Regions from separate parts of the Homo sapiens genome. Here all the other regions are reported to be linked to region 1. The links are microRNA targets in miRTarBase. Many come from high-throughput screens and were not tested one by one. Region 1 holds a microRNA gene; each other region holds the end of a gene's coding sequence. Distances are between the middles of the regions.

Evidence for each region. The annotated mature microRNA hsa-miR-31-5p reads AGGCAAGAUGCUGGCAUAGCU and lies in region 1 at 1,709-1,729, opposite strand. An mRNA with a match to its seed (bases 2 to 7 or 8) in the 3' UTR can be bound and repressed. Matches are read on the target gene's strand: a 7mer-m8 pairs with bases 2 to 8, a 7mer-A1 pairs with bases 2 to 7 and ends in A, and an 8mer does both.
Region 2: the mRNA of ABCB9 is a reported target of hsa-miR-31-5p. Seed matches in the 3' UTR shown: 7mer-m8 at 1,185-1,191 and 8mer at 1,560-1,567.
Region 3: miRTarBase lists SPRED2 as a target of hsa-miR-31-5p. Seed matches in the 3' UTR shown: 7mer-A1 at 1,789-1,795.
Region 4: miRTarBase lists AKNA as a target of hsa-miR-31-5p. Seed matches in the 3' UTR shown: 7mer-m8 at 2,032-2,038 and 7mer-m8 at 716-722.
Region 5: miRTarBase lists DPYSL5 as a target of hsa-miR-31-5p. Seed matches in the 3' UTR shown: 7mer-A1 at 2,182-2,188, 7mer-A1 at 2,284-2,290 and 7mer-m8 at 3,905-3,911.
Region 6: miRTarBase lists RASA1 as a target of hsa-miR-31-5p. Seed matches in the 3' UTR shown: 8mer at 990-997.
Region 7: miRTarBase lists ZBTB39 as a target of hsa-miR-31-5p. Seed matches in the 3' UTR shown: 7mer-m8 at 2,049-2,055.

Annotation. Positions count from the first base shown.
Region 1 is chr9:21,510,450-21,514,739 of GRCh38, forward strand. It overlaps MIR31 (microRNA 31), which reads right to left and starts at 1,736; the gene lies at 1,666-1,736. All of the region lies in intron 1 of MIR31HG (MIR31 host gene), which reads right to left.
Region 2 is chr12:122,926,658-122,930,947 of GRCh38, reverse strand. ABCB9 (ATP binding cassette subfamily B member 9) reads left to right here. Exons shown (of 12, transcript NM_019625.4): 12 at 777-1,956. The coding sequence ends at 1,037. Among named protein-coding and RNA genes, the nearest start is that of VPS37B, 33 kb to the right of the region's middle. RefSeq lists an enhancer at 530-1,030.
Region 3 is chr2:65,310,383-65,314,672 of GRCh38, forward strand. SPRED2 (sprouty related EVH1 domain containing 2) reads right to left here. Exons shown (of 6, transcript NM_181784.3): 6 at 469-3,787. The coding sequence ends at 3,119. Among named protein-coding and RNA genes, the nearest start is that of ACTR2, 85 kb to the left of the region's middle.
Region 4 is chr9:114,333,643-114,337,932 of GRCh38, forward strand. It overlaps AKNA (AT-hook transcription factor), which reads right to left. Exons shown (of 22, transcript NM_001317950.2): 22 at 514-3,664. The coding sequence ends at 3,412. Among named protein-coding and RNA genes, the nearest start is that of ORM2, 5.9 kb to the left of the region's middle. RefSeq lists an enhancer at 400-900.
Region 5 is chr2:26,946,036-26,950,325 of GRCh38, forward strand. DPYSL5 (dihydropyrimidinase like 5) reads left to right here. Exons shown (of 13, transcript NM_020134.4): 13 at 875-4,290. The coding sequence ends at 960. Among named protein-coding and RNA genes, the nearest start is that of MAPRE3, 22 kb to the right of the region's middle. RefSeq lists an enhancer at 3,534-4,034.
Region 6 is chr5:87,389,972-87,394,261 of GRCh38, forward strand. RASA1 (RAS p21 protein activator 1) reads left to right here. Exons shown (of 25, transcript NM_002890.3): 25 at 829-1,945. The coding sequence ends at 912. It also overlaps a transcript of CCNH not described here. Among named protein-coding and RNA genes, the nearest start is that of CCNH, 21 kb to the right of the region's middle.
Region 7 is chr12:57,000,323-57,004,612 of GRCh38, reverse strand. It overlaps ZBTB39 (zinc finger and BTB domain containing 39), which reads left to right. Exons shown (of 2, transcript NM_014830.3): 2 at 1-4,290. The coding sequence ends at 1,834. Among named protein-coding and RNA genes, the nearest start is that of ZBTB39, 4.1 kb to the left of the region's middle.

The DNA.
Region 1 (4,290 bases):
TCTAATTTTCAGCTAAAGCTGTTTTGTGAGTTCTTAAAAGCCTTCATAGGCAAGATCAGCTTGTACAATGATGTCTTTAAACAAATTATCCTTATATAAAGAGATGCTTATAAAAGTTGTAGACTAAAACTACCTCACTTTTGTGCTACACATTTTTGTTAAATTAGCAGCTTAGTTTAATATACTCCAAGAGGCATGAAATGAAGGTATAATGTGATCTTTCTGTATGTTTTAATACCCTGAGTAATAATAAATAATGACAATCGAGAATAGTGACTGCTACTTTATTTCTTGGAAAAGCATTAAAATTAACATGAAATTTTATTTATTAAAAGCAAAGCTTTTTATTAAAACTTCAATGCTTAAAAACATGAAACATCAAACAGTATTTATTAAACATTAGTATTTATTAAACATTAAAATACAATTGTATTTACTGAACATTCTTACTCTTTAAAGTGAATGTGTAAAAACCACTTTTAAAAGAGATCTACAGATAATGAGTAACTCCAGAAACAAAGGAAGATGAGGAATGTGAACTAACCAGGAGAAGAACTTGAGATCCTTGACAATTAACTCCTTGGTCTCTCAAGATTTCTATCTTTACAAAGAATTCTACATGTACTATCGTTCTGGCATAGAATTTCCACACATTTCACATAAAATCCCTTGTCTCTAACTAAAGAAAACTTTTTTCTTAGTAGTGAAATAAATGTGTTGAGTGTCTACTGGTATGCATATATCAAGAATTTTAGAGACACTAAATTTTTAGACATGTGATAAGAATCATCTGACTAAAATACCTTATTTCCTTATCTTGAGGGTCCTATGGAGTCACTATTATTACTCTAATTTTACATTTGTGTAAACTGTGGCTCAGAGGTTAAATGACTTAAGAACGCACCAGTAATGAGATTTGACCATAAGTTTTACTTTGAAGCTCATGCTTTTCCCAATAAAATATGCTGACTTCCACAAGTCTATGGATCCAATGACACATTTACTGTGACTGCTTTAAAGAGTTAGGTTTGCAGGCCCAGAACTCAACATTATCTGTTTATTTCTTTATTATTAGTTTTGTGCCAGGGATTTCACCAAAGACATTTATAATGCAAAAACTATAATTATTTGATATCTCTTTTGCATCAGGGTAGAGTTTCAAAAATATGTATTGAGAACCTACTATGTGTCACACTCTAAGGATACAGTGGTTATCCCTAACAAGGTCCCTAACCCTCAAGAAGCTTACATGGTAGTGCGGGAGAAAAGACACTAAGCAAGTAAACAAATACGTTTCAGGGAGCACCAATGTTTCTGAAAAAGCAGAGTAATGGGATAAAGGGTGACTGAAGTGCTGGAGTATTTTAGATAGCATGGTCACAGAAGGCTTCTCTGAGGAGATGATATCCTCGCTGAGGCCCAAATGATGAGAGAAAGGTAGGCAAGCTAAGAGGCAAGAACATCCTAGGTGTGTCCAAGGAATAGCCATACAGGCCAATGTGGCTAGCATGGAGTGAATTCATGGTAGGACACAATACATAGCAGGACAGGAAGTAAGGAAGGTGAGAAAGGCCATGTCATGGAAATCCACATCCAAGGAAGGGCGCACATACACAGCAATACACGAAGGACTGGCATGCAGGTGGCCATGGCTGCTGTCAGACAGGAAAGATGGCAATATGTTGGCATAGCAGGTTCCCAGTTCAACAGCTATGCCAGCATCTTGCCTCCTCTCCAGTTCCAAGTTACAGGAGAATACTATGACTCTTCAGTGTTTTACTTTTCCAAAATTTTTCCTTTCACCTGAGGGAGGGAAAACACACTCATTAATTGAAAGCGCACTTATTTCTGATCATAACAACATAGTCTTCCTTAGAGTGTCCGCTTTTGAAGATGTAGTTAGGCACAGGAGGTTTGTGGGTAGTTCCATTTTTTTAATGGTCTTTGATCTAAAATGAACCTCGAGAATGTTTATGGACTACTTGTGAAACCACAGGGATGAAATTGTGACAAAAATTTTATTAAATCAATAATGTCTAAAGTTGATGACAGTTAATTATAGGCTATTACCACCATATTTATAGTCCACAAAATATCCCAGTGACTCTCAGTACAATTTTATTTTTACTCTAATAACTTTACTTGGTCAATTTCTGCCACTCAGATGTATTTAAACAATAACAAACTGTGGCTCAGCAGTGTGTAGTTAGTTCACTGCTTTATGTGCTCTTAAAAATAATGTTATTTTTGGATTTTTTTAAAGACATTCTTGCTCTGTCATCCAGGATACAGTGCAGTGGTGCGACCATAGCTCACTGCAGCCTCAATCTCCCAGGCTCAGGTGAATCCTCCCACCCTAGCCTCTCAAGCAACTGGGACTACAGGTGTGTGCCATCACTCTTTTTTTTTTTTTTTGTATTTTTAGTAGAGACAAGGTCTCGCTATGTTGCCCAGGCTGGTCTCAAACCCTTAAACTCAAGCCATACTCCTGCCTCCACTTCCCAAAGTGTTTGGATTACAGGCATGAGCCACCATGCCCTGCCAAAAATAATGCTCTTTTGAGCCAAAAATTCCCAGCTAGAAACTTATTTCACAAGTACATTTGCAAAAGTACCACTAAGTTCTAGGTCCAAGGATGTTCACTGCAACACTGTTTTTAATAGTAAAAGATTGGAGACAACTTGAACACTCATCAGTATGATTGATACAGGCTAAATAAATAATATAGTTATACAACAGAATATTTGGTGGTCCTTACAAAACAGTAAGGCATAAGAATAATGACATTATGTATAACTTTTGTGCAAGTGAAAATGTATACACAGACACATACCTGGAGGGCATACATACATGTTTTTTATTAAAGGATAAATGAGCAATTTATTATTTTAAATAAAAAAATTGGATAGGATTATAAATTATGTTTGCTTTCCTCTTTAATATGTCTCTATTAAAAAACTAGTAAGTAATACGTATTATTTACCCAAAATGGAGTGTAAGGTAACCTATAAAGGTAAAACATTTTGTTATATAGTGCTACCAAGGTATAGATAAGGAAGAAGCATACTCTTTTAAATATGATTCTAGTATCAATTGCCTTTGCCAGAAACAAAAGTCCAGCATTACCTAAGCCTGGTACTAGATATACACATATGCAGTCACCCACGCATATACAGTATGTGGTGTCTGTTCTTGTGAGGGTAGGAACTTATGAGTGTTCTATTGCACAAAAGCCTGTAACATCTTGTCCTGAGGCTAGGTAACTTGTGGAAGAGGTACTAATTGACTTCCTAGGATACAATTCAACTTAATTGCATGATCTATTAATGTAAGGGTATTTAGGAATTTGGGGATCATTAAGTACAGAGCATTGAATCAAAATTAATGGCAAATGCAAAACAGGTTAGGTAACAAAATTCTGAATTGAGAAGATTTAACTGAATAAAGCTTCTCCAATAAACTCATTATTTTAAAAAATATTACTAATATCTGATATTCATAATTAAGAGGCAGGTACAAGCTGCATCATTTTAGAAGGTATATGGTACATATTTGAAAACAGTAATTTCTTGTGACTTTTTTCAGTTCCATTTTGCACATAAAAATTTCAGATTCAAGGCCAGGCATGGTCTTGAGTACATCTCAGAACTTTTGAAGGCCAAGGTGGAAGGATCACTTGAGGCCAGGAGATCAAGATCAGCCAGAGAAATATAGCAAGATTCCATCTCTACTAAAAATAAAAATAAATTAGCCAGCTGTGGTGGCATGCACCTGTAGTCCTAGCTACTTGGGAGAATGAGACATGAGGATTGCTTGAGCACAGGAGTTTGAGGCTGTAGTACTGTACTCCAGCATGGATGACAGAGCGAGGTTTTTCTCAAAAAAAAATTCAGATTCATTTTGTAAAGAAAATTGAATAACAGCAACTATCTGATTTACCAGTCAGATGTAGCAGATACCTGAATATTTAAAAGGAGGAAGAAAACTTACTTTTTAGGTTATCAAATAATTTCTCAATGTGTAATTGAAAAGTCTAGAAAAAAACTGTACTCTTTTGAAGAAGCTGTTGCTGTTGAAACTGAGGTGCTTTCTTTAATTTCTCTAATATATCCTGAGAATCATGGCTTTCACCAGGTTACTGGTAAAACCCACACCCTCACCACATATACCTTAAACAAATTTCTTGCAAAACTCTAACCTAACCAGGAATTGTTACAATGGGAAAACAAATCAGGTATATATATATATACCTGATTATAGGCCTTAGCAGTTAAGGTTAAACCTTGAAAA
Region 2 (4,290 bases), not on the chromosome of region 1:
GTGCTTCCCCTCTGAGTCGCATTCTCACTGGTCAGGTGGGCCCAGTCATGTATTTGCAGATGGCTAGCAACCTCAGTCTATGCGCGGATTGATTCATTTGTTACACAGAGAGTTACTGAGCTCTTCTCAGGCACCAGGCACCAGGCACCATTCTGGGGTTATCGTGGGCTAACTAGACAAAGACCCTTGTCCCCATGGTGTTTCCATTCCAGTGGGGAAGGCAGATAAGAAACAAGGAAGGCCAGGCGCGGTGGCTCACACCTGTAATCCCAGCACTTTGGGAGGCCGAGGCCAGGCGGATCACAAAGTCAGGTGTTCGAGACCAGTCTGGCCAACATGGTGAAACCCTGTCTCTACTAAAAATACAAAAATTAGCTGGGTATGGTGGCGGGCACCTGTAATCCCCTAGCTACTTGGGAAGCTGAGGCGTGAGACTCGATTGAACCCACGAGGCAGAGGTTGCAGTGAGCTGAGATCGCACCACCGCACTCCAGCCTGGGTGACAGCAAGACTTAAAAAAAAAAAAAAAAAAAAAGGAGGGGGAAGGGAAGGACCAGAAGACTGGAGGGCCAGGGTAGAGCTGATCCCCCATTCACCAGGTGCCTCATTGTGTCTGGCCCTGAGCTGTCTCCCTTTAAGAAAAACCCAGGAAGCTGGCCATCGTTTGTGAACTGAGCCTCAGAGAGGTTAAGCATCAGCCCATAGGCCGTGGCATGAAGCACGGTTGCGGGTGGGGCGTCCGTGCCATGCAAGCCAGGCCCCCACTGTCCCCGCAGATCCAGCAGGCCATCCATGGCAACCTGCAGAAGCACACGGTACTCATCATCGCGCACCGGCTGAGCACCGTGGAGCACGCGCACCTCATTGTGGTGCTGGACAAGGGCCGCGTAGTGCAGCAGGGCACCCACCAGCAGCTGCTGGCCCAGGGCGGCCTCTACGCCAAGCTGGTGCAGCGGCAGATGCTGGGGCTTCAGCCCGCCGCAGACTTCACAGCTGGCCACAACGAGCCTGTAGCCAACGGCAGTCACAAGGCCTGATGGGGGGCCCCTGCTTCTCCCGGTGGGGCAGAGGACCCGGTGCCTGCCTGGCAGATGTGCCCACGGAGGCCCCCAGCTGCCCTCCGAGCCCAGGCCTGCAGCACTGAAAGACGACCTGCCATGTCCCATGGATCACCGCTTCCTGCATCTTGCCCCTGGTCCCTGCCCCATTCCCAGGGCACTCCTTACCCCTGCTGCCCTGAGCCAACGCCTTCACGGACCTCCCTAGCCTCCTAAGCAAAGGTAGAGCTGCCTTTTTAAACCTAGGTCTTACCAGGGTTTTTACTGTTTGGTTTGAGGCACCCCAGTCAACTCCTAGATTTCAAAAACCTTTTTCTAATTGGGAGTAATGGCGGGCACTTTCACCAAGATGTTCTAGAAACTTCTGAGCCAGGAGTGAATGGCCCTTCCTTAGTAGCCTGGGGGATGTCCAGAGACTAGGCCTCTCCCCTTTACCCCTCCAGAGAAGGGGCTTCCCTGTCCCGGAGGGAGACACGGGGAACGGGATTTTCCGTCTCTCCCTCTTGCCAGCTCTGTGAGTCTGGCCAGGGCGGGTAGGGAGCGTGGAGGGCATCTGTCTGCCATCGCCCGCTGCCAATCTAAGCCAGTCTCACTGTGAACCACACGAAACCTCAACTGGGGGAGTGAGGGGCTGGCCAGGTCTGGAGGGGCCTCAGGGGTGCCCCCAGCCCGGCACCCAGCGCTTTCGCCCCTCGTCCACCCACCCCTGGCTGGCAGCCTCCCTCCCCACACCCGCCCCTGTGCTCTGCTGTCTGGAGGCCACGTGGATGTTCATGAGATGCATTCTCTTCTGTCTTTGGTGGATGGGATGGTGGCAAAGCCCAGGATCTGGCTTTGCCAGAGGTTGCAACATGTTGAGAGAACCCGGTCAATAAAGTGTACTACCTCTTACCCCTAACCTCTGACTTCTACTTGGGCCAACTGCCTCATCGCCCAGTTAGGTTTTTCCACCAGACCACGGCTCTCCTCTCAGCCCTCTCTGGTGGAGTTGCAGAGAGACTTTGGGTGGTCCAGGGCCTCCCCCTGTGTCTGGGAGCCCCATCTGCACTCCTCCCATCCCAGGGTCTCTGGTGTAGACATTCCTGTCTGCCTGTCTCCACGGGGATTGCGCAGGGGGATAGAGACGTTGCCTTGAAATCCCAGGGGCCTCTGTGCTTCCCGGGACAGCTGAACTGAGGCCCAACAAATGCCACCTGTTCTTTTCCATCGGGGCCCAGGCACCCGACACCCACCCCAATCCATGCAGTAAAGAAATATTACCCAGGAGGACAGCTCAATCAGCAGGGAGGTTTGGGCCCGGACACAGGAAGACCCCTGCGGTGGTTATTCTTACTTGCTGAATTGTGAAGAACTCTGGGGTCCCAGGAGGAGGGCTCTGTGCCAACTGGTAGAGTAGTATTTCAATTTTTTTTTTTTTTTTTGAGACAGAGCCTTGCTCTGTCACCCAGATTGGAGTGCAGTGGCACAATCTTGGCTTACTACAACCTCCACCTCCCGAGTTCAAGCGATTCTCCTGCCTCAGCCTCCTGAGTAACTGGGACTACAGGCACCCACCACCACACCCGGCTCATTTTTGTATTTTTAGTAAAGATGGGTTTCACTGTGTTGGCCAGGCTGGTCTCAAACTCCTAACCTCAGATGGCCTGCCCACCTTGGCCTCCCTAAGTGCTGGGATTATAGGCGTGAGCCACCGCGCCTGGCCAGCCTTGTCTTTCTCTTATAAAAGCACTTGTCATTGGATTTAGAGGCCACCTAGATAATCCGGGCTGATCTCATCTAGCGGTCCTTTGCATCTGCAAAGACCCTTTTTTCCAAATACGGTCACTTCACAGGTTCAGGGGTTTGACAAGGGAAGCTTTTGGGGGCCACCACTCAGCCTGCTACAGAGGGGAACTTGCAACCTTGGTTGAAGTTAACCTCAGGACTTCCTTTTTGATTTTAGGAAGCAGAGGGGGTTAAGTTTTCAGAGACTTAGCATATCTTCAGATGTTTCCAGAGAAGTTGGAAATTCCAATTTTCATGTGAGATCAGCTGTTTTTTATGTATTGGCTCAAATTATTTTGACAAAACCGAGGACCAACAAGCACATGTGTAGAGGTGGTCTCCAGCCTGTGCATCTCTAGTTTGTAGCGTCAGTGTTGGACATTCCTGTTCTGCAAAGTCCCTCGCAAGGGGCTTCCTGGCCCCAGCCCAGCCCCGTTCCAGTCTAAGCTCCTCTCCCATCTGCCTGTCTCTTCTCATCCCTGCACTTTCAGGCTGAGAATTCCAGATTCTTCTCCCTCTCCTATGGAGTTAGCTCCAGTGCCTTGATTTGTAAACCCACACCCAAAAGTGCGCCATAGGCAGACAAAAGAACCTTCCAGAGACCGAATTACCTTCTTTTTAGGAGGTACATAGGAGTTTTAAAAAAGTAATGTTTAGGCCAGATGCAGTGGCTCATGCCTGTAATCCCAGCACTTTGGGAGGCCAAGGTGGGTGGATCACGAGGTCAGGAGTTCAAGACCAGCCTGGCCAACATGGTAAAACCCTGTCTCTACTAAAAATACAAAAATTAGCCGGGCGTGTTGGCACACGCCTGTAGTCCCAGCTACTCGGGAGGCTGAGGCAGGAGAATTGCTTGAATCCGGGAGGCAGAGGTTTCAGTGAGCCGAGATCACGTCACTGCACTCCAGCCTGGGTGACAGAGCGAGACTGTCTCAAAAAAAAAAAAAGTTTAATTTTGAAATAATTTTAGATTTACAGAAAAGTCACAAAACAATACAGAAAGTTCCCTTATGCCCCACCCCTCACAGTTTCTCTTCTCTTAAAATCCCACAGTACTGGGGTACATTTGTCACAATTAGGAAACCAACATAGCATGTCACTATCAGTGAAACTGCAAGCTGTATTTGTGTGTCACTAGTTTTCTTACTAATGTCCTCTTTCTGTTCCAGTGTCCCACATTACATTTAAGATAGGAGTGTTTTTGTTTGTTTGTTTGTTTGTTTTTAGAGACAGGTTCTTGCTCTATTGCCCAGACTGGAGTGCAGAGGTGCTATCACAGCTCACTGTAGCCTCAACCTTCTGGGCTCAAGTGATCCTCCCACCTCAGCCTTCAGAGTAGCTGGGGCTACAGGTGCACATCGCCATGCCCAGCTAATTTTTTCTTTTGCTTTTTTTTTTTTTGTAGAGACAGGCCTTGCTTTGTTGAACAGGCTGGTCTCAAACCCCTGGCCTCAATCAATCCTCCCAC
Region 3 (4,290 bases), not on the chromosome of region 1:
AAGAGAGCTGCTCGGAGGAGACCAAGCATCTTGCAGTGTTAACAATTGTTTTCTGCGAGAAATTGTCCTCCAAACTACACACACACACACACACACACACACACACACACACACACACACACATATCCCTGAGGTTCAGCAGGGATCAGTGGAAAACAACTTAGAGGAAGTACAGCTGTTCCCTCTGAGGAGCGCTCGTTGGGGAAGCCAGGCCTAGGAAGAGGGGGTGTTCCTGGGCGGTGGCCTGCAGCCTTCCTTTCACTGAGGCATCCGAGCCCAAGGAGCTGCAGTCTCCCCTTGGGAATATGACATAACCATAGGAGGAAAGGGCCTTGAAAAAACAGACCGGTGTCCACATGTCCTTCGGCACAGGAAGCCCTGTCCCATCCTGTATGCGGGAACTCCAAGATCTGCCAACGCTCTAGCATCACCTCGTCTCCTGCCAGACAAATACCCCAAAGCCAGCGATCTGATAGGATGTGTTTATATTTACACGGTACATTTTAAAGCAATGGCTACATTGGTCATACATATTAGAAACCATAAAAAAAAGTTAAGAACTAAAATGTACATCATACACTTGTATATATATTTTTTACACAGAGGTAAAAAGGCTTATTATAAAAAAATCAATACAACAGGGTTTTTAGTATACAGGTAAAGAATGAATTATGCTTCAGGCACTTTAATTTGTTAATGTGAGCAAATAGCTTGGGGGGTCGGGGAGGCTTCTGGACAGAAAATCTTTTGGTTAATGTTTTGTTACCACAGATACAAAAATAAAATCTGAATAATTTCTCTCAAATGATTGACGTCAGTATGGCAAAGCTGACTGGGAAAATACTACACACTGTTCAGCTGCAGTGTGGCAATTAGAGACGTATTTACATAAATGTCCCCATGGCTGTCTTTGTGCCCTTAACCGATGCCTTCACAAACCAAAAAGTATACGTGGAGTAAGATCTGCTAGCGTAACTCTTAAAAGGGTGGAAAAGGACAAGGGGTGAAAGAAGAGAGAAACAGGTAACAACTAAATAGAGGTGACAAACAAAAAACAGCTGGGATATGTGCGTTCTTATTGAAATAAATAGGGGCACTTGAACTGAGGTCTAAGGAAACGAACATTAGTGTTGTGCTTTGTAGAGAAGAGACCCTAGAGAAAGACCCCAAGGAAGTGCCTCCGGGTCGGGGGAAGGTGGTCTCTCGACAGCACTGGAGGCTGGCTGAAGGTTTTCTAGATGTTCTCCAGGCATGGATGAGGTTCTCTTTTCTTCCATCAATCCAGATGGACAGCTCTCTGCTCCTTTTCCAAACTGGAAAGCCTAAACCAGTTACTCCAATGAATGAAGACGTCTACTAACTGACTCATAAGCACACTGGGTATTTACACCGGTAATCTACTAAAGAAAATCGATGAGCTTGTGGACGAGCTGGAAACAGCCCCATGAAGGTGAGCACAGCTAGCACTTTCCCAATATGATTGGCAGACTGGAAAAAAGTCCCTTTCCTTGAAGACTGGTGTCCTGTGTGCAATAAAGAAGGAGTGGGGAAAGGGAGTGGGGAGCAGGCCATGTCTTCTGCTGGCCGCTACCACAGAAAGATCGTGGCGGGAAGAACAGCCGGCGTCCGCAAGCCTGTCCCCGGTGGTCTCCACGAGGTTCTGATTGTACTATGCTAGGTATAGGTAACCACTCTTCACTTTTCTTCTTTCTTCAATAAGAAGATTTGGCTAATCCTTGCAACGTATTAGAAAAATACTCTTTTCCAGCTAATTAGAAGCCTCCTCCGTGGCAAGGCGACAGGCAGAACCAGTTGGCTGACCTAACCACCTGTGCACCCAAAGTGGCGAGTCTGGGTTTGGAGTTGCAGGAGAAAGACACTTAGGCATTGGAAGGGTTTTTACATATGGCCTTGTTTTTTCCCCAAGTATAAATGAGGAATTTGGTGATGTGAAATTGAGTCCAAAATGAAACGAAAACATAAACCCATGAAGAAAATGCAACCCACCACTCTTCAAATTTATGACATTTAAAAATCCCCTCTCCCCATTAATATAAAATAGCCAGGGGTTGGGGGGAAGAAGCTCCCTATGGTTTTATTCACCATAACCTTAGTGTTTCTCAACTGGAACTTGTTCGTGGGAACACTGATTTGTGTTTGAGGAAACTATTTGGTTTGCAAAACAACAAGCAAAATTTCTTACTTCACTAGTATCCTATTCTAATATTGCTAAATTTTTAGAAGTGGTGGCAACACAATTTAAAAAATGTTCTACTTTAGGGGTAATGGGGAGGCTCATAGAAACCTGAAATCCCCATTCTAGCCCTGGTCCAAGAGGATGCAATGCAGTTGAAGGAATTTTCCTGATTCTCACAAGTTAATCTGAAGTTAAGGCTCAATTCTCAGTCTATTACGGGTGAATGTTTTGCATCAGTGAATCATTTCAACAGATTTTGGGGGGGCAGAAAATGATGATGGGCTAAAGATAGAAACTGCAGCTTACATGGGAAATTTGGCTTTAGAAAAGTTAAAGCGATATTGTTTTGTGGTACAAGTTTGTTAACTAGCTCACCTCCTATACATAATAACTGACTGCAGGCTGAGATACTTCTGTCGGGTTTCATCATTCTCACATCCCATTTCCGCTGAACCAGATGCTTGCTAGCGACAGGCAAGGTGAACCAAGAGAAAGAGAGTCTTCGACGCTCTTGGAAAAATCAACTACAAAACCCACCGAAAATCAGCAGTTCCAATTGCAGACTCCTTTGAACTGGAAGAGGCGGGGGAGGAGGAAACAGGAAATCAACACATGGATGAGACAGTTAGCTTGGTTACAGATTGTTAATAGTACAGGAGTCTGTGGCGAAGGTTCCTTCCTCAGAACACTGTGCGAGCGTGTGTGTATGGATGTGGCTGCTGCAGTGTGGGCGGCAGGGGGAGTGGAGAGTCTACCCGGCAGCGTCCCTGGCTGGAATGGTGCCTCGAGGTACCAGGGAGCTGGGAGGCCGCTTGCCCTCCTCGCTCCTTGGAGTGGAAGGGAGCGGGGGAGAAGATGAGAGTATGTAAGAGACGAGTTCCCCTGTGGCTGCGGATGGAGGGAGAAGGGAGGGAAACTGAGTCACGCGGCCGCTTTGTGCTTCCCGCCACAGCACCTGCACATCACTCCGCAGTGGTAGCAGGCCCGAAGGGGCAGGTAACAGCACATACAGGGGGCCAGGAAAGACAAGGCAATAAGAGCCATCCACCGGAGGCAAAACTTCTCGTCGCTAGTATCGCACGAGCAAGGGTCTGTATAGTCTCCCTCGGGGTCCGACATACAGTGATAGAGCATGCTGTCCGCGCACCACATGCAGCTCACCCGGCGGATGCAAGTTCTCACGGAGTCGGGCGCGTCCTGGCAGTGGCCCCGGCGGTTCTCCTCGTGGTTGAACATGTCCCTGCAGTACACGCACCGCGAGCGCTCTCCGTCCTCCTTCCGCCGCCGCGACTTGCCCCGGGAGGGCTGCGTCTTGATCACGCTGCCCCCGCGGCCTTTGGGGTCCTCGCCTAGGCCAAAGTCTGAGGAGTCCACGTAGGGGTAGTTGTAGTCATGCTTGGGGACCTCGCCCTTGGCGAAGCGCACGTAGGAGGAGTCCGCGTCCTCCGAGGGGTCCGGGTACTTGCCCCTGACGGGTGCGTGCCGGTAATCCTCGTACCCCGTCATCCAGATCTTCTCCCGGGGGTTGATGCGCACGATCTCCTCGTCGTCGTCCGGGAAGCTCACCTGGCGGTAGGGCCTTGGCATCGGCTGTCCCGTAGGAGAGGAGACATTATTTTACAGCAGCGGCCAAAAAACAAACAAACAAAAAAACACCCCACCTTCTCCCTCCCTAGCCGTCCAAAATGCACCTTTCTCGATAACTCCATCACGATGCTCCGTGAAGAAACAGACCCTTCCTGAAATTACTGAATATCCTGTCGCCCAGTCAGAGATGTATTTCAAATAGAGTCTCAATCCATTAATGGGCCAGGAAATCAATTTCGTGGGTTGAGACCGGCAGTATTTTCCCTTTCTGGTGACGCACTGCCATACAGGCAGGGGAGTGTGCACATGGCAAGGGCACAGTGTGATGCGTTCTCAGGAGCATGGCACACTCAGATCAAGAGGCAGAACAGGACCTGTGCCCCAGAGTATCTTCCGCCTCCCTCAGGGATCTCCTAGCCCCAGTGTGAGGGCTACACTCACTTCTAAAGGCCTGCATTAGTTTTGCCTATTTTTGTATGGTATGTTCTCTTTTGTAAGGCTGGCTT
Region 4 (4,290 bases), 93 Mb from region 1:
TACAAGCAAACAAATGTGAATTTCTAAACTGAGACTACTGTAAGGCCTTTCTCCTAATAGCAAGATTGTAATAAAACTTCAACTAGTCATAAAAAAAAATCCTTTTCTGTTTCTGCTGCAAGCAAGGAAATGAGAGGATGCATTTGAGTAACCTTGAGGCAGAAGACCCTAAACAGGAGTGGAGGTGTGATATTGTTTGGCTCTGTGTCCCCACCCGAATCTCACATGGAATTTTCAGCCCCATGTGTTGGAGGCGGGTCCTGCTGGGAGGTGATTGTATCACGGGGCTGGTTTCTAATGGTTTAGCCCCACCTCCCAGGTGCTGTTTCTCACAAGGTCTCATTGTTTAAAAGTGTGTAGCACCTCCCCCTTCGCTCTGTCTCTCCTGCTGTCTTGTGAAGAAGGGACTTGCTTCCTCTTTGCCTTCCACCATGATTGTAAGTTTCCTGAGGCCTCCCAGCCATGCTTCCTCTGAAGCCTGCGGAACTGTGAGTCAATTAAACCTCTTTTTTTCATAAACTACCCAGTCTCAGGTAGTTCTTTATAGCAATGTGAGAACAGACAAATACAAGGTGGATGGGGTGGGGAGAGTTCAGGCATGTGGTGCCTATCACAAGGACCTTATTCCAGTATTACCATGGCCATCGGGGGAGGCACGTTGTGGGGACCAGGCTGGAGGCAGGAAGGCCTGAGTGAAGGCTGCTGTGGGCAACTAGGCAAGAGGCGGTTGCCTGGGCCAGGACAGGGCAGGGCAGGGAAGGGCTGGGGTGATGCAGAGGGCTTGGGGCCCAGGCCAGAGGGGCTGGGTGTCTCCATGGATGTGTTCTTAGGGTGCTCACCTGGGAGACCCAGAAGAAGGAGATAACACGTAAGGGTGAGGCTGGTCCCTGGAAATCAGCTGACATCCTGCAAATGTGGAGCCCTGAGGTGGAGCCAAGCCCGAGGCACAGCCCACTCAGTGGCACAAGCCACAAAGGGCCGGCCTCACCCCAACCTGGGTGCTCGTGATTGACAGCCTCTTGTTACGTGAGGGAAGCAGCACCCCTTCCGTGGCAGAAAAGTTGGGCCTGAATTGTTTGAGCAATTCCACGTGTGCAGCTGCGTATACCATCCAGGGTGATAGGACCATGAGCCCGAGGCCCTGATGTCCTGGGGTCTAGTCCTGTGTCCACAGGCACCACTCCCCTTTGTACCTCCTGTCCCAACAGCCAAGCTCCACAGGGCCAAGACTACAGCATCCTTTGCTCAGCACCCAAACCACAGCTGTGCCCACAGCACGGAGGCTGGGGACACCGAGCTGATGTCCTCAGAAGGCAAGTGGACAGGACAGCCTCTGGGGTCCCACAATGTCCTGGAACTGAAGGCTCAGAACCTACAGGAAGTTTGTCCATTTCAGTGTTACTTTCAGTGAGACACCATTTTCAACCATACTCAGGAGGATCCGCTGAAAAATGAAACAGAAATGAGTCATGATGGGCAGAGCAGGGAGAAGCAAGGGAGACGAGAAGTGGGGAACATGGAAGAAAAAGCCACGTGAGGAAGAAACCAGAGGTCAAGAGAAAAAGAATCATGGAGGTAGAGGAAGCAAAAAACACACATAACAAAGAATGTGGACTTTGGGTCAGACCAATGTGAGTTTAAATCCAGGTTCTCTCCCAAACCAGTTTGGGCAGATGGCCCATTGGAACCCCACTCTCCTCATCAGTAAAAGGGGGGCAGAGTGAGGGTCCTGAGGGTTAGCACATGGACTGTGTGAAGCAGACAATGCCCAGTGCTTAGCACCGGAATCAGGGTCTAGCAGGTGCTCCCTAAATGGCAGGTGCTGTTTGCTACTGAAAGTACTGGAAGGCTGGGCGCCATGGCTCACGCCTGTAATCCCAGCAATTTGGGAGGCTGAGGTGGGTGGATCACCTGAGGCTGGGAGTGCAAGATCAGCCCGACCAACATGGAGAAACCCTGTCTCTACTAAAAATACAAAATTAGCCAGACGTGGTGGTGCATGCCTGTAATCCCAGCTACTCGGGAGGCTGAGGCAAGAGAATCACTTGAACCCGGGAGGCGGAGGTTGCAGTGAGCCGAGATTCCACCACTGTACCCCAGCCTGGGCAACCAGAGCAAAACTCAGTCTCAAAAAAAAAAAAAAAAAGAAAAAGAAAAAAGAAAAAAAAAAGAAAGAAAGGAGCACTGGAGAGTCCAGGTGCATACTCTTGTAGACAGCAACTTGCTGTGTGCCTCATTTACATCTCTGGCCTCAGTCAAAAGGGACTTGGCTAGGCAGCCCCACCTCAAGGCCCTCCGCAGTTGAAAGATTTATGGTTCTGAGATAGGCAAAGGGGGAAAACTGGAGAAACAGAAGCCACCAGAGGGAGGCAGGCAGAGCACCCAACAGGTCCCCTGGGAAAGGGCTTGGCTGGGCATCAAACCTACCACCCCATAAACTTGACATTGAAGGCAAAAGTTAATGACATACAGCAGAGACACGGATGGCTTTGGGTATTTTTTTTGTCTTCTTTTCTTTTTTTAAGATCAATATTCATTCTTCATTTGCCCTCGTAACGAAAATAGATTTTTAAATGCCTCAAATATACAAACATCATTGATGCACACACATTCCAGAAATGCAGAGGTATGCTGCTGCCACGGGGTAGGGGTGCGGGAGGCGGCCTGGCCTCATGGCCGCAGACCGTGCCCCAGCCCGGGCCTGGCAGGTAGCTGGCCACTGATAAACGCCACTGGGATCCTAGGAGAAGCTGGGGACCATGCGTGAGGTACTGAAGGGGACCATGGTGGATGGCATCCTGGGCACTTTGTAGCTTGTCTGAGGGAAAGGCCTCTGCTGCCATAGAAAAGCTGGACACATGTCACCCTGGGGCCCTGACATCCTAAAATGCCCCACTGACTACCAGTCACTAGGAGAAAGGTCTCCGGCTATGCCCTTCCCAGTGATGCTTGCCCCAGAGTGACTGGTCACAGGTGGGGGACAGGTTTGCTCCAGAAACCGTAGGCCTTTCTTGTCTGGCCCCCTAAAGAGGACCCAAGATCAGGAAAACTCCCCAGTTTAAAAAAATATCTGTCCATCTGTATATAAAATACCTATTATTAGCTGGAGTTGCACACATGCAGGACCAGGAGAGACTGCCTGAGGTTCTGCCTGGACCGAAGGAGGCCTCGCTCACAGCACCTCTGTGAGGGGACTGGTGCTCCTGGGAAGTCACTTCTCTTGGTGACCGAGCTGACACCCCCTCCACTTGGAAAGCACAGGGACTGAGCAGGCGGGACCTGTGCTGGAGGGAGACCCTCCTGGTGAGGAACTATGCGGGCCTTCTGGGCCTCAGCAGCTCCAGCCCACTCCTGGCCTGGCAGGCCACCTGCCCACCCACCCACCCATCTGCCTCTGGGCCCCCAGTGAAGTCAGAAGAGGCAGGAGCCCCGCAGGCTGTGAGCCTGGCGCAGGTCGGCTGACAGCGAGCTTCTCATCTGCCTGGTGGTAGAGCGGACGCTCTCGGCAGCCTGCACGGCCCGGCTCAGGGCCTTGTTGAGCTCCTCTAGGTCGCCCAGGTCGAGCTGGATGGAGTGCCGGTGTCTCCGGGCTGGTGGGGGAGAGGCTGTGGGCGGCCACTTGGCAGCTGGTTGGGCTGAGGTAGGTCCTGCAGGCGCATAGTACCTGAGGAGAGAAGTGAGTGGGCTCGTTACACATGGGGAGGGCTGGGGACAAGCCGAGGAGCACCGTGTGTGGGGTCAACCCCCTTCTAAATCCCAGCTGGGCCAGTGGCTCCTACTCTCTGGGTCTCAGTTTCTTTACCTCTAAAATGGGAATAATGGGCACACATCCAGGGATTTCTTAGAAAGATGAAGGAAGATAACAACATGAGTGCCTGACCCAGAACAGGTGTTCAAGGACAGGAAGTTCAATCTACCTGTTCATCTGATTTACTGCCCATCTAGTACATGCCAGCCAGCGTGCCAGGCTCTGGGGTTACAGTGGGACAAGAAAACATGGACTCCTGCAATCTTCTTGGAGCCGGATCTTGGGGAGGCCAGGATCACCCTAGGCTTGATAGCAAAACCCCCTCATGGAAGAATATCTGGGGGTTCCATTTGCCAAGCAAGGGGTGCTGGAGAAAGGCAATAATTAATAATTAATAATAGTAATAATAATAATAATAGGGATTCTGCAGGAGTGGGAGGGTCTGGCCCCATGTCCTGGGAAGTGGGTAGAAGAGCATCCTTCCTAGCCCAGTCCTATAGGAATGTGAGGTGTTGTTTTAAAGTGCTGTGGGAATGGGCTGA
Region 5 (4,290 bases), not on the chromosome of region 1:
ACTGCCACTCCCACCAGTGACGGGCCATGAGTGAAGTCAGAAAGGGACCCTGGCATGGAAGACTTGTTTATGCACACTCAGGTCTTGCCAGTCCCGGAGGCATGGACTCCCACCGCCTTCCTCCTGCAGCCAGACCCACGAGAGGCACCAAGACCCCAGAGCTGCAGGGCCCCTGCTGACCAGCAGCCTCCTCTTCTCCTGCCTGAGAGCCAAGACTGGGCAGAACCCCCGCTCAGACAGCAAACATCAGGCAGCCTGTCCCCTCCTCTCTACCCCAAATCTTGTCTGTTCTAAGCAGGCCAGGCTGAAGAATGTCCCACTGGGCTCTCCGGGGCACTAGACCCTCCCTTTCCCTCCCTTTGTGTTTTGTTTGTTTTTGTTTTTTTTTTTCAATCCTTCTCCTGTATAGACCCTCCCTTTGTAACTAAGTCATGGGATTTCAAGATGCGGGGCCTTTGGGCTGTGGTTCTTTCATTTTCCGAAACAATGGCATACCCTCATTTTTCTCTCTCGCTTACTCACTGAGGCATATGTACAAAGGCCCATGTGCCAACAGGCTGGCCAATGACCTGCATGTACGAGAGACTGTATGCCTAGGCATGGGGCAGTGAAGTTGGCACAGTGGGCAGTTAATAATGTCGGCTCTGAATCAGGAAAACCTGGGTCCAAGTCCAGGCTCTGCCACTTACACACTGCAACATGGGGCAAGTCACTTAACTTCCCTGAGCCTCTGTCTCCTCATCTATAAGATGGGATGGAGTGGCTGTGAGGATTCACTCAGGCCATGCACACAGTGAGCCTCCAGGAGAGGGTGTCTGTGGTTTGTTAGCAGGCACAAGAGCCCGTCTCACCCTCTGTGCTTCCTTCCCTGCAGGCTCTCAGATCGATGACCATGTTCCAAAGCGAGCTTCAGCTCGGATCCTCGCTCCTCCCGGAGGCAGGTCGAGTGGCATTTGGTAAAGGCATTGCCAAGCCCCCCGAGTGAGGACGCACCGCCGCCACCAGCCCGCAACTCTCCAGCCGAAGCTGCAGGGGCAGGAGAGGCTGGGCTGGGTGGCACACCACCCGAGGGGGGCCCCGGGACCCACGGAGCCCTCCCTATGTCTGCAAAGTGATTCACTGTGCTTCGAGCCAACTCTAACAGGCACTTTGAGATGTGTTCCTCCTGCTGTAGTCCTTTCTGCCTTGGCCTCGGCGGGCTTTTCTGGGGCCCAGGAAGCCCACACTATGCACAGAGCCCAATGCATAGAGCCCTGGCCAGCCCTTCCTCTCACTCCTGCCTCCGCTGGCTTTGGGAAAGCCCAGACTTTAGTGCCCTGCCCCCTGGCTGACTGGCCAGTTGCCCAGAGCACTTTAGCAGATGTGGTTTCAAAGTAAAGGCCTCCTCCCCCACCCCTTAGGCCCCGTGGTGACATTTCCCAAGTCAGACAGATGTCAGCTTCCCAGCCATGCCCAGGACGTCCTATCTCCCCCAACCCACCTCTGGCCCTGTGTAGGGGCAGGGATGGGGGTGGCTGGGACTCCTGGTGCCCCTCGCCAGCTTCTCCTGCGCCCCGCCCACACCCTCGGGGGGTCACAGGCCCAGAAGGGTAGCTGGGCGGGGCTCGAGGCTGGTGCCAGGCGCGTGTAAATGGTTTTGTTTTGCACGTTTGGTTTGCGCAGTAGTTTGGTTTGACTTGTTTGTGCATCCTGTGAAAAATAACGGTGCTTGTGTCACTAGCATAGAATAGCGACAGGAATAGATGTGGTCCTTAGGAGACGCTGCACTTGACACCAACCAGACAGCACAGGGCAGGGGTGGTGGAGGGGGCTGGGCTCACAGGCCTCTCTTTTCCCCGCCTGCAGTCTTCTGGGCTGCGGGAGGCCCTGGCCCTTTCCCCTTCCCCTCCCCTCCTTGTCTAGTTTCCCACATTCCAAAAGGGGGCCTGGGATGCTAGCCCCAGAGATGCCAGCCCTTCAGGAAGCAGGTGTCCTTTCCCCTCTCTGCCCCTGATCACTCCCAGCACTCCCCTTGCCTTCCCCTGTCTTCACCTGCCACCACACACACACACACACACACACACACACACACACACGCACGGCTTCCTATAACTTCTTCCTGCTGGACAGAGACTCAGCGCTCCTCCTGTGTGACTGGCAAGAGGCCTCATGCCTGCTGAGAGAGGAGGAGTGGGAGAGGGGCTTGCCAGACACCAGAGAGGGAGACCCCAGGCCCACAGGACCTGGCTGTCGAACCCGCATTGCTGCTCAGGTGCCGTGATCTCCCGTGGTCGGCACCAGGCCCTTGCCAGCTCATGGCCTCATCTTCTCCCCTGTCCATCCAGGTGGGCCCTCCCTGCTTCTAAAGCCCCACAGAAGTTCCCATGGAAACACTAGAGGCCGGGTGTCTCCTTCCACCTCCAGTGATCTGGGAAGTGACCCAGCCGCCTGCCCTTGTTAAGCCTGGTCTGCCCCGTGGGAAGTGACTTCATGTTGCACATGTGATTTCAGCCCCCGAGGCTTGCGCGAGGCTTCTGGACCCTCGGTTAAAGGTCAGCCCCTGGCCGGGTGCGGTGGCTCACGCCTGTAATCCCAGCACTTTGGGAGGCCAAGGCGGGTGGATCATGGAGTCAGGAGATCGAGACCATCCTGGCTAACACGGTGAAACCCCGTCTCTACTAAAAATACAAAAATTACCCAGGCGTGGTGGCGGGCGCCTGTAGTCCCAGCTACTGAGGAGGCTGAGGCAGGAGAATAGCGTGAACCCGGGAGGCGGAGCTTGCAGTGAGCCAAGATCACGCCACTGCACTTCAGCCTGGACGACAGAGTGAGACTCCATCTCAAAAAACAGACAAACAAAAAAGTCAGCCCCTGCACATCTCTGTAGTGCTTTTCATGTATTCAAACCACTTCCGTATATGACCTCTCACTTAGTCCTCATGACAATGGAGCACTTATTATTCTTCCCATTTTACAGATGAGGAAACTAAGACCCAGAAAGTTCAGGTCCTCTGACCCCAGAAGTGTCTGTGATGACCCTCCCAACCTTGGCTATCTACCCCACCTGTGGAGAGGAGGTCTGGGGTGACATCTATTGTAGATCCCACCTGAGAGTTTAACCAATGAGAAGACTTACTTTCCTGGTAGGCAGCCTGCTTTGTTTTGCACAGGAAGATAGATTTTTTTTCTCATCTTTCTTATAAACAACCTCATGCACATTCTGTGTTTGAGCCAAGACTAGTCACCCATTGGGGGCTAACCGTGCAGTGTGAGCTGCGTCCACACCCTCACTTCTCCCTTCACTCCCCCTTTCCTCACTCAGGGGCTGAGAGGACAGAGGTGGTCAGCCGGGGAGCAGAGGTGGCGAAGGGGCTCATGGCAAGTGGCAGCCATTGGAACAGGGGTGAGGACCCAGGCCTGGGAAAGCCACCAGGGATGGGGGAAACCATGACGCCGCCTCCTGGTGCAGTGCACACCATCTCTATCCCTGTCAGCCCTCACTGGGTCATGGGCCTTGGGCAGATGTCAAAGAGCCCAGCAGCAGCGGTGGTGGCCAGCTGGGCAGAGCATCCTTGCTTGGGCTAGGAAAGCTTTACCTTCTCTGAGTGCCTCCGCCTGAGAGATGTGTGACCCGTGGCACCAGGGAACCACGTCTTGGAGTGGTCCACTGTAGGCCATGCGCTTCATCCACCCCCAGTCCCTACATAGGCCCTACCCTTGCCCGGGAGCTTCTAGATAGAAATCAGAAAGAGATTCAAGGAGCCAAATGAGCGGTCAGCCCCCACCATGCACTCCTTGCCCCGTGCAGAGCTCCAGCCAGCTTCGTCACCAGCCCCACTGGCTCCTGGTTGGAACGAAAGGGTCTCTGGTTGCACTGAATGCAGCTCTCAAACTGGTCTTGTACTTGCTGAATAAATACTGTTGTTCTTGCCTTAGCTGCTCTCTAGGTTTGTGGGGTTAAGTTGCCAGAAAATTGTGCTACTGTGTGTGCGTGTGCGTGCGTGTGTGTAGTGCTAGGAGTCCACAGTAGGTCTCTGTCAAGCCGATGTCGTGATGAGGGCTTTTCTGATACTGACCCAGAAGCCACAGAACCACAAGGAAACCCAAACCCCCTCCAGCTGCTGAGGCGCAGGCACAGCCTGGGGTCGGATGGAGCCTCCAGCACCCCAGCACCCAGGTGACTTCCCCACTCCCCTGTAAATGTCATGGTGCTAAGACTGTGTCAACCCCAAGACGACACATGGTCCTGTGCTTTGGCCACCGTTTGAGGCAAAAACTAAACAGCCCGACACGTTGTGTTCTGGTGCAGGT
Region 6 (4,290 bases), not on the chromosome of region 1:
TGTGGCCTTGAAAGCTGCACGTCTAACAAACTCTTAGAGGAATTTATAGGTATTCCGATGCAAGTGAACCATGGCCTACACTTTGAGAAACAGTAGACTACATTGATAGACTTCTATCTGCCATCTGCACCAAACAGATACAGATAAGGATGTATTCAAAGACCAGACCAGAATTTGAAGGGACTTAATACCAGGTCAATTAAGATATTGGAGATATAGAACAAAATGAGTTACACTTTGAATGTCCTCAGCTGACATAAGGGCTACTGAGAGGAAGTGACCACAGGGACAGTTTTGACTAGTTTCTAATGTAGTTTCAGGAGATAGTGAATGCTGTCACCGCACTGGCTAACCATTTGGCAGGGATTTTGTAGAAGGGATTAAAGCATTGAGTTTGGTGACTGAGTTCTCTACAACCTGAGATTCTAGAATCCTCAAGTCCTGTTTCTCCCCGCCCCTCCCCCCGCAGCTTTCAAAACTAATAATATGACTTGACTTGCCTTAGATATTAAATAAAAAAAGCCTTTTTTAAAAGAGAGATAAACTGCTTCTGACAACATGTGATAGTGTGATAGTTCTGGCCTAAAAAATAGGAGCATGCCAAACACAAACAAATTTCTGTTCACTTTAGGGTATAAAAATTCTCTTAGTTATGACCAGAAATACTCAGCCAATGACTGAATAATAGAGACTTATGTTTTGAGGGGAATTGTGGTAATATTTTATGCATCCTTTTGCTTTGATACAGTTTTTTTCAAATCCAGGTTCCCATCCTGAAATTGCTGACCGAGCTTTCATTTATTTTCATACCATTTTTCCTCTGTCTAGCACGTATTGAAAAAGCTTCTGGCTATAACAGAACTGCTTCAACAAAAACAAAACCAGTATACAAAAACCAATGATGTCAGGTAGCAGCCTTCGCCCCAGTGTTCTGCATGGATTCAGCATGTCCAACATGGTAATTCACTTCAGTTTAATGTCTCCTTTGCTCTTGCCAAAAAATAGCACACTTTTCCACATTCCAGTGATGTGTGAGCTATGCAAACAAAATCCAAGATTCTGCTGGTGAATAACTATGCCAGCAACCTTGTAAGCTATCTGTGCAGGATATTTGCACTATTTCCACATGGAATCAATCTTTAACAACCTCTGAGCCTTGGTGTACAGACCACCTTTCACAAAACGAAATGCTATGACTGTATCTTGATATCTCGAACTTTCAAAATATATTTTCAGTACACCCAGTTGCCAAAGTTTTGCTGTCTCTTAGAGAAAGAACTATGAAATCAACTGACAAGAAACACATTCTTATTGACAATTGTGTATAACTGGATTGCAGACTGTTCTTACTGTAACTACTTCCTGATTAGGAATATGACCATTTGACTGTTCAATGATTATTTGTATTTACAGTTTCCAGAGTTTGTCATTATAATAGGAACAATCTTTGCTGTATACTTTTAAAAAATACTCTGCTATTTCTCTTGCTGGAACTGTTGAAAGAAAATATATAGAATGATCTATTGCTCATCAGCTTTATTTTTTAAACATACGACTTATTTTGTTGAAATTGTCAAAGACTGTATTTAGATCTCATAATGCTTTGTTAAATGTTTACAAGTAAATAGTTTGAATTCAGTAAATATTATTGGTTGTTGTATTGATCAATGCATGTTACCCATTCAACCATTTTATAGACTACCAATTTCTTTTATGTTAACTAGAATGCTTTTGTTAAAAGTTATTTGTTCATTATTTGTGCTACCCCTTTGATTATGCAGACAACCTCATCAGCTGCCTAACTTATCCATCTTTGAACTTCTGACTACTTGTTGTATCTGCTGGATATTTAGTTCAACTGTATAGTTTTATTTACTTCTGTATGTGTATTTTTGTGAAGTATTCACAAAGGTTAAGTTAAAATAAAACCAAGGGATATCTTGCATAATTGATTACTTCTGTCTAAAAGAGCTAAGCATTTAATTTATTTATTTTCTTCCTCCTTCAGGGGCAGTTTAAACCTTAGCATCAGAGCAAGGCCCAGGGAGAAGCTGAAGCTTTAGATTAGTATTTTTGCTAATGGCCTCTTTTGAAAAGGATTTTATAAATGCAATAATTCCTTCCCTCTCATAATTGTGCAGGGCAGATAGATAGGACATATGGAACATACGTGGCAGAATGACATTGGTAATCAAAGTGAGTGAGACAGGAACCCAAGGAGGTGTTCCCACAGTAAGGAAAGCCCTAGATTCCAAGAGCAACACTTTATGCTATTCCTCTAATGTATAAAATACAGGAAAAAAAAATGCTAAGGGCTTAAAAGATGTCTGCTTAGTAGTTCCAAGCTACAAAAGGCAGTTATTTCTATGGGGGCTGCTAACCTATGTGGCTTCAATCACCGTTTAACACTGATACCAAAAATCTCAACATGTCCCATGCTCCTTTTCCTTGAAATCAGCTCAATTCATTCCATTCTCTCCCTTCTTGGCTCTTTTATCAAATTACTCTCCTTTCCACCCCTTCTGTTTTTTAGCTGGACTTGGACCAACATAGTATCCCAGGTGGTCTCCTTCCTTGGTTACATGATAGAAGACAGGGAGGATATGGATTAGTCAAGATATTTTTGCTGTGCACTTTGGCTCCCATTTATCACACCTCAATCTTTAGCCATACTAACCTGTCATTCCTCAGTCTGAAATCCTTCTCCCTTTTATTTAAAATCACAAACCTGACTTACCCTGCTTCTTATATTTTAACATCATTTGTCTCTCAAGTTGAAATGGAAACTTGTTACTTACCTTTGTAGGCCCTCTAGTAACTAGCTTGTCAGTGTTGAAATAAAATCTCTCACACTTTAACGTTTTTAATGGGGCTGGGTGGGAAAATTTTCAGTGATAAGTGTGGACCTTGCTCTGATGCCAAAGTTTGGCGATCTGAAAGGGAAAATGAGACAAATTGTGAACATCTTGTAATTCTGTCTAGAGCCTAGCAGCAATATATTTAACTAGGACTGCGATGGAGGATTTATAACTTTTGGCTTCTTCCACTCTGCTTTTGTAAAAATCTCACATCACGAATTTTATTCCTTTCACTCTGGAATGAGAAAAAAAAAAAACCCACAAAACTCAAGCCTACAGTGTAAAGAATTATTGTTAGAGAGATGAATATGCATATAGTAAGTATTGCCTTAAAATAGATGTAACTATAATGGTACCTACCTTTCTGGAAAGTACAGCCTGGGATGTACTGAGACTGAGGAGGTGTGTGTATTTGTGCAATTTAATTAGATTCAGGACACTTGAATTACTCGGAATTCCTTCAAGCCAGTTTTCCTGAAAAAAATCTGGCTTGGTAAACAGACGTCCACAGTTTGGTTCCAATTATAATAGTTAACACTTACTGAATACTAGTGTATGCAGGTACTATTCTAATTAATCCTATGAAGAGTAGGCATTTTTATCTTCCCCATTTTCAGTGTGGGAAACTGGCACTTAGAGGTTTAATAACTTACCAAGGTCACATAGTGAAATACAGCTGGCCATGATTCATATGTAAGTAATTTGCTGTAATAGTCTGTGCTTTCATATTTTTATATTGACTCATTTCAATTTGAATTACATTTCTCTAACATATTTAATCTGCAAAATTCCTAGTAACTGTTATAATCTACTTACACGGATTCACTTATAGGATCTAATAGGTTAATTATAAGGCTGTGGTGATGTGTGCCTGTAGTCCCAATTACTCAGAAAACTGAGGCAGAGGATCACTAGAGCCTAGGAGTCTGAGACAGCCTGGGCAACATAGCAAGACCTTACATCAAAACAAAATTAAAAAACAACCACAACTGAATATACAATTTGCTGCTACCTACTTATCTATACTAGCGTAAGAGTTTGATGTAGACAGCTATTCAAAATCATATATCTGGTTTTTTTTAAAAACCCATTTGGAAATGTTTTCGGGTAACTAAAGAAAAATAATATTCATTACCCAGACGACTGGCTTTCAGTACCATGTAACAGTTGAAATACCTTCTGCAGTTTAATAGTAATGGACAAATAGCTAAATATATCAGGATGGCATTCAAAAAGCCATTTATAAAGGTTTCTAGAGGGCAAAACACATTCCTTAACACTTTTAAAGCTGGCTACTAAGTTTTGTTTTTTGTGGTGCCTTTTTTAAAAAAAGCATAGGTTTGCCTATCATATTTTGCTTAAAAAATTAGGCAAATGAGTTGCAGCTTTAATTTGATATTAGTCACGATGGAATAAGAATATTCAAAACAGG
Region 7 (4,290 bases), not on the chromosome of region 1:
CTACGAGGTAGCTGAGCGTCTGGGTATGGAGGACCTCCTCCAGGCCTGTCACTCTACCTTTCCTGATCTGGAGAGCACTGCCAGGGCCAAGCCCCTGACCAGCACCAGTGAGAGCCACTCTGGTACCCTGAGTTGTCCTTCGGCAGAACCTGCCCATCCCCTTGGAGAACTCCGAGGTGGTGGGGACTACCTTGGTGCTGATAGAAACTATGTGTTGCCCAGTGATGCTGGAGGGAGCTATAAAGAGGAAGAGAAGAATGTTGCCAGTGACGCTAACCATAGCCTGCATCTGCCGCAACCGCCCCCACCACCGCCAAAGACAGAAGACCATGACACCCCTGCTCCCTTCACGTCCATTCCTAGCATGATGACCCAGCCACTCCTAGGCACTGTCAGCACGGGCATCCAGACCAGCACGAGCTCCTGCCAGCCATACAAAGTTCAAAGCAATGGAGACTTCAGTAAAAACAGCTTCCTCACCCCTGACAATGCAGTAGACATTACCACTGGGACCAACTCCTGTCTGAGCAATAGTGAGCACTCCAAAGATCCTGGCTTTGGGCAGATGGATGAGCTCCAGCTCGAGGACCTGGGGGATGATGACTTGCAGTTTGAAGACCCTGCTGAGGATATAGGCACAACTGAGGAGGTGATTGAGCTGAGTGATGACAGTGAGGATGAGTTGGCTTTTGGAGAGAATGACAATCGGGAGAATAAGGCCATGCCCTGCCAGGTGTGCAAGAAAGTTCTAGAGCCCAACATTCAACTGATCCGGCAGCATGCTCGGGACCATGTGGACCTGCTGACGGGCAACTGCAAGGTCTGCGAGACCCACTTCCAGGACCGAAACTCCCGGGTAACTCATGTCCTGTCCCACATTGGTATTTTCCTTTTCTCCTGCGACATGTGTGAAACTAAGTTCTTTACCCAGTGGCAGCTGACCCTTCACCGACGGGATGGAATATTTGAGAACAACATCATTGTCCACCCCAACGATCCCCTGCCAGGGAAGCTGGGTCTCTTTTCAGGGGCAGCCTCCCCAGAGCTGAAATGCGCTGCCTGTGGGAAAGTATTGGCCAAAGATTTCCATGTGGTCCGGGGCCACATCCTTGACCATCTAAACTTGAAGGGCCAGGCCTGCAGTGTCTGCGACCAGCGTCACCTTAACCTCTGCAGCCTCATGTGGCACACGCTGTCCCATCTCGGCATCTCAGTCTTCTCCTGTTCTGTCTGTGCGAACAGCTTTGTGGACTGGCATCTTCTAGAGAAGCACATGGCTGTGCACCAAAGTCTGGAAGACGCCCTCTTCCACTGCCGCTTGTGCAGCCAGAGCTTCAAGTCAGAGGCTGCCTATCGCTACCACGTCAGCCAGCACAAATGCAACAGTGGCCTTGATGCACGGCCTGGTTTTGGGCTGCAGCACCCAGCTCTCCAGAAGCGGAAGCTGCCAGCAGAGGAGTTTCTGGGTGAAGAGCTGGCGCTGCAGGGCCAACCTGGGAACAGCAAGTATAGCTGCAAGGTCTGTGGCAAAAGATTTGCCCACACAAGCGAATTCAACTACCACCGGCGGATCCACACGGGGGAGAAGCCATACCAATGTAAGGTGTGCCACAAGTTCTTTCGAGGCCGCTCGACCATCAAGTGCCACCTAAAGACACACTCGGGGGCCCTCATGTACCGCTGCACAGTCTGTGGGCACTACAGTTCCACCCTTAACCTCATGAGCAAACATGTTGGTGTGCACAAAGGCAGCCTCCCCCCTGACTTCACCATCGAGCAGACCTTCATGTACATCATCCATTCCAAAGAGGCGGATAAGAACCCGGACAGTTGACTGGGTCCCGGCAGAGCCACGGGGAGCTCCCAAGCAGCAGCCAGGATGCTGATATCTAAGAGGTGTTGGTCCCTCCCCAGCTGAAGTTATAATTTTGCCTTGGTAGGAATTCTGTTCTGTGTTGTGTTTAAAGAAGAAAAGAAGAAGAAATAGCACATAAGCTGTTACTGTTGTTGAGAAGCAACAGCCCTATCACATTTACCTCCATACCTGTTCTTGCCCATGCAGGGCTATGTTTTTCATTCTTTTGAGGCTGGTTTTGGGATCTAGTCAAGCAGTTGGTGTCCACTAGACCCCCTTCCCCAGCCTCTCTAGTTTTAGTTTACTGATAGGTTTTATGCTGCTAAGAATCCAACCAACAGCCTCACTTAACAGAGGAGGTAAAGGGAGGTTTTCACTGTGGGTGTTACTGCAGGCCTCCAACTGGGATGACCAGCAATGAGAAAGATTTTGGGAATGTGATCATTCAGAAAAGACAGGTCAGCAGGGCAGTCCCCTCAGGTTCCAGCCCTCAGCAGGGACAAGACATCAGGGATGTTGGTGTCTGCTTATCTACAGCCCTAATCTGCTGATTGAACAGTGAAAATCTTTTGGCAGCTAGATCCATACTAGGCACAGAGCTTTCTATTTAGGTCAGAAAGCTTTGGGATGAACCCCTGCCAGCCAGAAGGGGTGTCCTGCAGTGCCACCAGAAGTGGCAGCCTGGATGGACAGGAGAGGTTTCTCTTTTCTCCTCATTTCCAAAGAAACAGGATTTTATGGAGTGATGGCCCGGGACGTCCGGCCTTCTGTGGGGCAGAGAGGATAGGGAACCACTTTGATATAGTCATCTGTTTTGGCCACTTCTGTTGGCCATGAGTGTCTTGGTGGAGAGGTGGGGATGTATCTGACAGCAGCAGCCTTGCCTTAATTTATATCTGGTCTCCCGTCCAGAAGTGTTTGGCCCGTGGTGTAGATGAGCTGACTCCATGAAGTGGTGGAGTGGCAGACCGCGAGCCCTTCAGGATTAAAGGGACCTGAGTAACTGGTGGTGTGTAGCAGGGTGTGCGTTCTGACTGTCTGTCCTAGTCGGGTAACCTGTTTACTTTGTGCTAACAGTGCCGGAGCTTTGTCAGCTCACCTTTGACCTGCTGGAATTTATCCTGATCTGTCGTTGCCATCACCTCCAGGGGGCGCTATTGGATGGCAGCTGGTTCAGGCCCTCCGTGGGTGGCTGCAGAGTGTGCCGGCACAGCCCACGCAGCTGGTTAGCTCCACTCTTACTTGGTTTTCTAAGGGGCTTTGCCCAAAGAAGTCTTGAGGGATAGGGCCCTCGATCTTGCATACTTGTGAGGTGCCACCTCAGTAGCTCATACTACCTCACCCTGCTCAGGTGAGCTCTGGGAGTCCCTGGCCTCAGCCCTGGCACTGCCCCTGGTGGGATTCAGCAACACCCCGGGCTGTTTCACAAGCAAGTGGTTTTCATTAACTCACAAAGCCTTTTTGGACATTAATATTTATTTATTTTTGTTTTTGTATACACATTACCCAGCATCTCTTTTGTATAAGAGACTTTAGGAAAATGAGTTTCTCCCCAGCAAGTAGCCATATTCCAGAGAACAGCCTTGACCAGAGATGTGGAGAACCAGGGGTATAACTAAGGGAAGACATGTCAAGCCCTTAAGCAAATTCTTCTTCTCCAGATTGTCTCTAGCATAATAAACCCAGGGAACACTTTAGGCCATGGGTGTATGTTCTATAAAGTTCGGGACAGTTAAATTCCAGGCCTTTCATCCCCCTTCCTTCCTGTGATGGAGTAGATTGGGGACAGGGTTGAGGGGAACAAGTGACATGAATGACCTATTTGCACAGTTTGGAAGCCTCCTGTCTTTATTTATATTGAGATGTCAGACAAACCAAAGCTCCATCCTTGTTGGACCTGCTGCTTCTCCCCAGCCCTGAACTGATAAAGCCTCAGAGTTGGAGTGCCTGGCTCTCTGGTGGGGTGACCATTAGATGAAGGGACTTGTACAGTGGCCAGTTTAAAGGTCCACCTTTGACCATCTAAACCCACCTTGTTCAGTGTCCTCTGAGGACATCCTCATCAGGAAAGCAGTGTTGAGACTCTTCATTGCTGACTGGCTTCTCCCTTTCTTACTCACACTGACCATTAGAATTTAAGAAGGAAATGTGTAACAGACTACAGTCAAGTGTCTGCTACATTTTCAAGCATGAGCAATCCCTCCCAGACTGTTGGTGAGGACTGATTTTTGAAATGCTGGTGTGAGAGAGGTGGTAATTACAGGAACCAGCCGAGTGGCTGAGAGCAGATAAATGTGCTGGAGAAACCTTTTTCCTTAACAGAGGGCATCATGGATGCTGGGTGGTCTGTGTACTTAACCTGAAACTGTGAAGTTTTCCCTTTTTGCCAGTAAACCAAAAAGCAGATCCTTGAAACTTGGCCCTTGAAACACGAA